2 linked regions of the Homo sapiens genome follow. The gene in region 1 interacts genetically with each later gene. Each region holds a gene or a part of one and is shown on either strand. Other genes may lie near its edges.

What was found.
Region 2: changes in ZNF445 (region 1) and SPPL3 together harm fitness less than expected from each alone (positive genetic interaction), as found in Homo sapiens cells (one large-scale study listed by BioGRID).

Annotation. Positions count from the first base shown.
Region 1 is NC_000003.12:44,471,059-44,474,871, reverse strand, and holds part of ZNF445 (zinc finger protein 445), read left to right. Parts: intron 1-3,813. UniProt on the Homo sapiens protein: Transcription regulator required to maintain maternal and paternal gene imprinting, a process by which gene expression is restricted in a parent of origin-specific manner by epigenetic modification of genomic DNA and chromatin, including DNA methylation.
Region 2 is NC_000012.12:120,768,320-120,772,132, reverse strand, and holds part of SPPL3 (signal peptide peptidase-like 3), read left to right. Parts: intron 1-3,073; coding exon 3,074-3,180; intron 3,181-3,644; coding exon 3,645-3,808; intron 3,809-3,813.

The sequences.
Region 1 (3,813 bases):
GTGTGAGCCACCGCGCCTGGCCAGCAAACTTTTTATTTGGAATAATTGTAGACTTTCAGAGTTCTCTTACACCTTTTACCTAGTTTGTCTCAAGTTGCTATCTTGGATTACCATAGTACGTTCATCAAAATTAAAAAATTTACGTTGGTACAGTACTATTAATTAAACTGCAGACTTTTAAAAGTTTATTTAAGCATTCTTTTTCTGTTGTAGGCTCCAATCTAGAATTCCTCATTACGTTTAGTTGTCATGTCTACTTGGTCTGCTTCAATCTGTGACAGTTACTTAGTCTTTCAAAACACTTCTGAAGAAGTGTTTTATATTTGTTTTTTTGTTTGTTCTGTTTTTTGTTTGTTTGAGACGGAATTTTGCTCTTGTTGCACTGGCTGGAGTGCAATGGCGTGATCTCGGCTCACCGCAACCTCCGCCTCCCAGGTTCAAGTGATTCTCCTGCCTCAGCCTCTCGAGTAGCTGGGATTACAGGCATGTGCCACCAGGCCTGGCTAATTTTGTATTTTTAGTAGAGGCAGGGTTTCACCATGTTGGTCAGGCTAGTCTCAAACTCCCGACCTCAGGTGATCTGCCCACCTCAGCCTCCCAGAGTGCGAGGATTACAGGCATGAGCCACCGTGCCGGCCTTATATTTGTATTTTTATAAAGTCCCTCAATTTGGTTGCATCTCAAGTTTTCTGTCAAGTTTTACCACTGGAACCTTACTGTCTTTCTCCTAGTCATCAGTAATTATTTGGGGGAAGATAGTTTACTACTTTGCATATGAGATGCTGTTTCTCTTTGAACTTTGGTCTAAGTAGCATTCATTGATTGATCTTGCCTGCAGCAATGACTACTGTGGTGTTGGGATTTGACTTTCTCTTTCCTTCATTCCTTCTAGGCATTCATTGGATACTTACATACAATTCTCATTCATTCAAAGTATTAATTGGAATCTTTGTGAGGAAGAGTTATCCCTTCTCCCCTGTTATTTATTTATTCAATCAGTTATATTATTGTGTGCTTTGGATACTTATTTTATTCTTTGCACTAGAATGCAGTACTGTTGTTATTTTATTGCTGAAATTATTGTAGCTCTTTGACTATTGGGAGCTGTGTCTGTTTGCCCCGATTTTTTTTTTTTTTTTTAGTCCTTCCTTAGTTTTTGTTTTCTGGCACCCAAAACCCTTATATTTTTCCCTCCCCAGCCTGGCATCAGTCACTTCTCCAAGGATCCCTGTTTGTTGTTGTTGTTGTTTGTTTTAATTGGAGAATAGTATAGTATTTAGAAATCAAATTTTGGGCACTCCCATTATTAGTTTATTTCTTAATTGGTAAATGAATATAAATATTATTTTAAGGCTTTAAATATATACTGAAAGCATTTTTTGTGTGTGTGTGTGTGTGTGTGTGTGTGTGTGTGTGTGAAGTGGAGTTTCACTCTCGTTGCCCAGGCTGGAGTGCAGTGGCATGATCTCGGCTCACTGCAACCTCCGCCTCCTGGGTTCAAGCGATTCTCCTGCCTCAGCCTCCCGAGTAGCTGGGATTACAGGCATGCAGCACCATGCCGGCTAATTTTTGTATTTTTAGTAGAGACGGGGTTTCTCCATGTTGGTCAGGCTGGTCTCGAACTCCCAACCTCAGATGATCTCGCCTCAGCCTCCCAAAGTGCTGGGATTACAGGTGTGAGCCACTGCGCCCGGCCTGCATTTTTTCTTAAGTGGTGATTATCTTGGAAACCTGTTTGCTTAATATCAGTTTATATACCTTCTATACACTTACACTGGTAGGAAAACACAAAAATAAGAGACTAGCTCATGGGGACATTAAAAGGAAAACAAAGAAATTACATTGGCCATGAGGTGAAGAAACAATGTAACAGAAGAAAATCTCCTTGAAAAATATCAAGATCTTGGTTGGAAGTTTCCCTGTTCTTTTCAAAGCCATTTTCTTTGTGGGAATGAAACTGGGTTAAGGTATAAAGCTCTGGGGGGAGAGTCCTGAGAATAAGATCCAGCTCATGTTCCTTCCCAGTTCTGAGTGTAATTGTGATATAATCTCAGCAAGAAGATAAATGAAGCTTTTCTTCTATGCTTAAAAGCTAGTTGGGACTTGGGAGAAGCCTGTGGCATTAAGATACCTGAATTTCATTGGCGGGCTCAGCTGTCTGCTGAGGTAGCTGTATGTTCACTATGCTCTGGGTCTTTCATTCAGAGTTTGAGAGGCCCGTGAGGTCTTTATTCATGTTCATGATTGCAGAGGCTGAGCTAACCTTTCTTTGACTCAAGGACTGGAATCCTCACTATATTCACAGGCATTCGCCCTGAATTTTCTGTCAGTCTTCTCATCACCTCTTTACAAATACATTACTGCCAGGCAAGGTGGCATGCGCCTGTAATCCCAGCTACTCAGAAGGCTGAGGCAGAAGAATTGTGTGAGCCCAGGAGTTCAAGACCAGCATGGGCAATATAGTGAAACCCTTGTTCCCCCGTCCTCCTCCAAAAATCTGGAAGTTAGCTGTTGTAGGGGGGAAAAAAAAGTCACTGACCCTTTTGGACATTTGTGCAGCAGCTGCTTCAGAACAGTCCTGCTTGGAGACTTATTTTTGGAGCTAATTTGACTGTAGGTGTCAATTTCCTGAGATTGGTCAGTGCCATTTATATTTTTCACTGGGTACATTTCTTAAAAGTGTTTCTCTCTGGCCTCAATTTCTTTCTCTTTAACTTAATTGCCAGATTTATCTTCATCTTTAGCAGCATTTTGGTTCTTTTCATACTTTGGTTTTCTTTCTCTTCTGTCTGTTCTGCAAGTTTGGCCATGAAAGTCTCTCTTCTTTTTCTGTTTTTCAGCTTTCTCCTGATCAGGTGTTTCTCCTTCCCTTTTGTGCTGCTGGCACGCACCGAGGCTGGAGCCTGCTCCTCTTGGTCCTGAAGCTCCCACTGCTTCTCAGTCTTCGAGTCTCCTTTTATAGGCCTTCATTTATTTACTTTATTTCTTCTTTCATTTTCCCTTTTTTTTTTCCTTTGAATACTTATTCTTACTCCACTCCCCTTTTTCACAGCAAGGCTTCAGTTCTCTGCCAGAACTGTAGCAGCTTCCTCAGCATGTGTGATCCCTAATGTAGCTCTTTTCTTGCCTCTTCTTGGCCCATAGAGTAGGGCTGTAGTTTCTTTTTTATCCCTGGATGATTGCATGCCTTCTAGTGTGAGTCTTCTTTACATCTTAGTTTACTGTCATTTCTTTTGACAGTATTAGCAGCACTTGCTGAGAGCAGAGGACATTGGATAGGTATTAGTTCAGAGCAAATGTAGAAGGTGGTGGCTCTTTTAATTTCATAAGTGTCACTCCTTTTACATTTGCTTCACAGTGGTGGGAGATGGAAGGGGTCAGCATTTTCAGGGGATATGACCTTCATCTGTGACTTTGTGCACAGGGTAGTGGGGCCACTTTGCAACAAGTTCTGAGACCTGTTGTCCATCTCACACTTTTTGTAGACACTCCAGTTCTTCTCTCATGAGTCTTTAGTTTGTCAGTTCAGTGGCTATTTATGGGCATATTTGGATCCTGGAGTAGATTGATGGCTGTTACTGATGGATCTTTTCCACCAATAATGTCTGGGTACTTTTACTTCTAGATAAAGAAGCTTTTAGGGACAAGAAGATACTGATGAGATTGCTCTCTAGACTGAACCAAGAGTCATATTAGAGAAATTCTGGATGCAGGTGATCTGTACAGAGTCAGCTGATCCTGTGTCTGTGGAACATTAATGGCAGCACTGCTTGTATTTCTCTTTTTCTTCAACTTTTATTTTTTTTCTTCCAT
Region 2 (3,813 bases), on another chromosome or scaffold:
GGAGAATCACTTGAACCCAGGAGGTGGAAGCTGCAGTAAGCTGAGATTGCACCATTGTACTGCAGCCTGGGCAACGAGCAAAACTCTGTCTCAAAAAAACAAAAAAAGAGCAGCAGCAACTGACTGGTTGGATCAGGAAAGACTCTGAGAAAGGACTCCTGACCTGGCTCTTCCAGAATGAGGATGGATTTTCCATATGAAGGAGCCGGGGGCAGGACCTTCTGGGTAGAGCGTGAAAAGAACACAGTATGTGTGGAGAGCGGGAAATTGTGTTGAACTGTCTAGAAAACAGAGCCACAGGAATGCGTGTTGAGGGCTTGGGCTGTACAGTGGAGAGTGCCCTCCCTGGCCAGGGAGTTGGACATTCATCCCACCACAAGACCCCATGAAGAGTTTCTCAACAGCTCTGTGTCCTCATCAAACCTGTGTTTGCAGAACAGTGGAGGAAGAGAGCTGAAGGAGGGGAGAGGCCCTGCACCTGCCAGGCCCTGGCCTAGACTACAAGGGTGAGCACTGAGCCATGCTCTCGGGGAACCTTCACTGGAGTTGAGGGCAGTGAGAATGTTTAAAAAAAAGAAGAAATTATGTATATCAGAAGTTGAGAAATGAAAAATAAGACAAGGGCAGGAAGTATGATCTTAAATGTAATTGCAGGAAAGTCCACCTGTCATTGAGAAGCTAGTACTTGCGTGAAGAACTGTGAAAGACGAGGAGCGGAGCCAGTTGGGTTCTGGGAGGAGATCGTTCAGGCAGAGGGCACAGTAAATGCAGAGCACTGAAGCGGCGGCGTGGCCGAAGCGGCGGCATGGGGGGTAGAGTGAGGAGGCTGCTGTGGCTGGCAAAGGAAGTAGCAGGAGGTGACCTGAAGGGTCACCGTCACAGCAGGACCTTGTCAGCCAGTATGAAGACTGTGGCTTTTACTCTATGGGAAGTTGTTTAAGAGTTTTGAGCTAGGGGCCCCATAAAACCTGCCTTAGGGTTTAAGAAGCTGCTTCTGTCTGCACTGTGAAGAAGAGACTTGTTAGGGGTTAAGTTGGAGGCAGAGAGGCCAGGGAGGAGGTCATTGCAGCAATGCACGCCAGGAGAGGATGGCGGCTTAAGCCAGGCAGGGTGTAAAAGAGAGACGGGTCAAAAACGACATCACAGATTTCCGTCTGCACAATTGGAAGCAAAGAGTAAATGCTTGGAGACAGAAGACTGCACTGTTAAGAGCTGAGTTTGGACATGTTAGATTTGAGAGGCCAACTAGACAGCCAAGTATATATGTCTCTTAGGCCACAGGATGTATGAGTCTGGAGCTCCAAGAAGAGATTCAGGCTGGAAATTAAAATGTGTGAGTTGATGACATATAAGATAGATAGTGTCAAGAGCCTTGAGATTGGACGAGATCACTGAGAGAGGAAAAGATCTGAGGAAAGGCCCGTGGAGTTCTGGGAATTGAGGAGGAGCTACAGAGAAGCCTGAAAAGGCCAGTGAGTGGGGAGGAACAGGAGAGCACATTGTCCTGAGAATCAAGGGAAAAGGAGGGAGCCATTAGCTGGGCGGGTTGCTGCCTAAAGGTCGGGTAAGAGGAGGACAGGTCGATTACTGTGTCTAGCAATGAGGGGATCCTTGGCAAGCCCCCAGGAGCAGTGTCAGTGGAGTAGCAGGGATGAAAGCCCTGCTGGAAGTGATCGAGCACTCAAATGATAACATCTAATTTATGGGAAATATATGGGATAGAGGAAAAGCCAACCACTGCAATAGAGAAGCACAGAAAAATCCAGATGACTCCAGTTTCAGCAAGTCATTAAAAAAAGGACTTTAGGCTGGGCATGGTGGCTCACACCTGTAATCCCAGCACTTTGGGAGAACAGGGTGAGAGGATTGCTTGAGATCAGCCTGGGCCACATAGCAAGACCTCATCTCTACAAAAAATACAAAAATTATCCAGGTGTGGTGGCACATGCCGGTGGTCCCAGCTACTCAGGAGGCTGAGTATTGCTTGAGCCCAGGAGGCAGAGGCTGAAGTGAGCCAAGATCGCATGACTGCACTCCAGCCTGGGCAACAGGGCAAGACCCTGTCTCAAAAAAAATAAAAGTGGTGGGGTGGACTATGTCAGATTGGAAACCAGCACAGACAAACCATCTGCAAAAGATGTTTTGGGGTCTATAGAGAAATTTGATTAAATGAGGTGAAAATTCACCCAAATGGAAACTGGGGGTTGTTGGCTTTGGTGGAGGGGGGGAACAGATTGTGTGATCTCATTAGATTAAAAAAAAAAAGTATGTAAAAAATTATTGGCTGGGTGCAGTGGCTCATGCCTGTAATCCCAACACTTTGGGAGGCCAAGGCAGGTGGATCACCTGAGGTCAAGAATTCGAGACCAGCCTGGCCAACATGGTGAAACCCCATCTCTACTAAAAACACAAAAATTAGCTGGGCGTAGTGGTGGGTGCCTGTAATCCCAGCTACTCGGGAGGTTGAGGCAGGAGAATCATTTGAACTCAGGAGACAGAGGTTGCAGTGAGTCGAGATTGTGCCACTGCACTCCAGCCTGGGTGATACAGCGAGACTCCATCTCCAAAAAGAAAAACAAAATTCTAGGAAGATATTGAACAGTGGTAATCTCTGAAAAGTGGGAATGTAATTTTTTTATTTTGCTTTACTGTATTCTCTAGTTTTCTATAACGCAGTTAATGAATTGCTGGGATGATGCCTCCAGTGAATGAAAGGGGGTGCTATCTAGGGTGTGAGTTCACTTTAAAGCAGGGAGCAAGGACAACACATCCACAACATTGGAGGGAAGGCAGGAAAAGAGAGCTTGGAGGTCTTGGACTGGTTTCCTGGGTCTCCAACAGCCGAGCACTATGTCTAGGAGGAGGAAAGCAATCACCCCAAATTCCACAAGTCCAAACAGGCTGAAGAAGCGGGTGTTTTGCACCAGTTGCATGTAAGTTTCTGAAGCTGGAGCTTAGGGCTGCCTGATTTTTGAGGGAATTGCAAACTCTGTGAAGGGCCATAGCTTGTGGAAAGAGGATGAGCCTGGAGTCCACACTGACTGCTGTCTGCTGTACCCTGTCTCCTCCCCAGCACTGGCCATGGGCCTCTGTGTCGCCATGATCGCCTTTGTCCGCCTGCCGAGCCTCAAGGTCTCCTGCCTGCTTCTCTCAGGGCTTCTCATCTATGATGTCTTTTGGGTAAGCGTTTATGTCCTTGGAGCTCCTCCCCTTCTTTGTGTTGAAGTGAAGCATTCATGCCTGAAAACTATTAACTAGAAGTATCCAAAGTCGGGCTTGCCCAGCTGCTGATCACTCTCTCTCCAGTCCTTAACTGTATCATGGGTGTGCAGTCCGATCCTTTTGTTTGCTGAAAAGTCGTACAGTAGGTAGTGTGTGTGTGTGACTCCTAGGATAGAAGAGGTAACAGGCTGACAAGATTCGCTGCAGTGGGGGCCACCCCGTCAGGGAGTAATCTCTGGGTGTGGAGAGTGCAGAAATTGGCAAGTACACAGGAAGAGCAAAGATTTTCTCAAATCATACAGTCAACGAAAGCATTGCAGTCACAGCATTCTGAGACTCTGCTCTTAAGAGCAAGGAGGGCTGATGCTGAAAGCAGGTTGCTTCCAACTCCCTCTGTTAAAGGCATCTCTCCAACTCGGCAGGTATTTTTCTCAGCCTACATCTTCAATAGCAACGTCATGGTGAAGGTGGCCACTCAGCCGGCTGACAATCCCCTTGACGTTCTATCCCGGAAGCTCCACCTGGGGCCCAATGTTGGGCGTGATGTTCCTCGCCTGTCTCTGCCTGGAAAACTGGTCTTCCCAAGGTAAG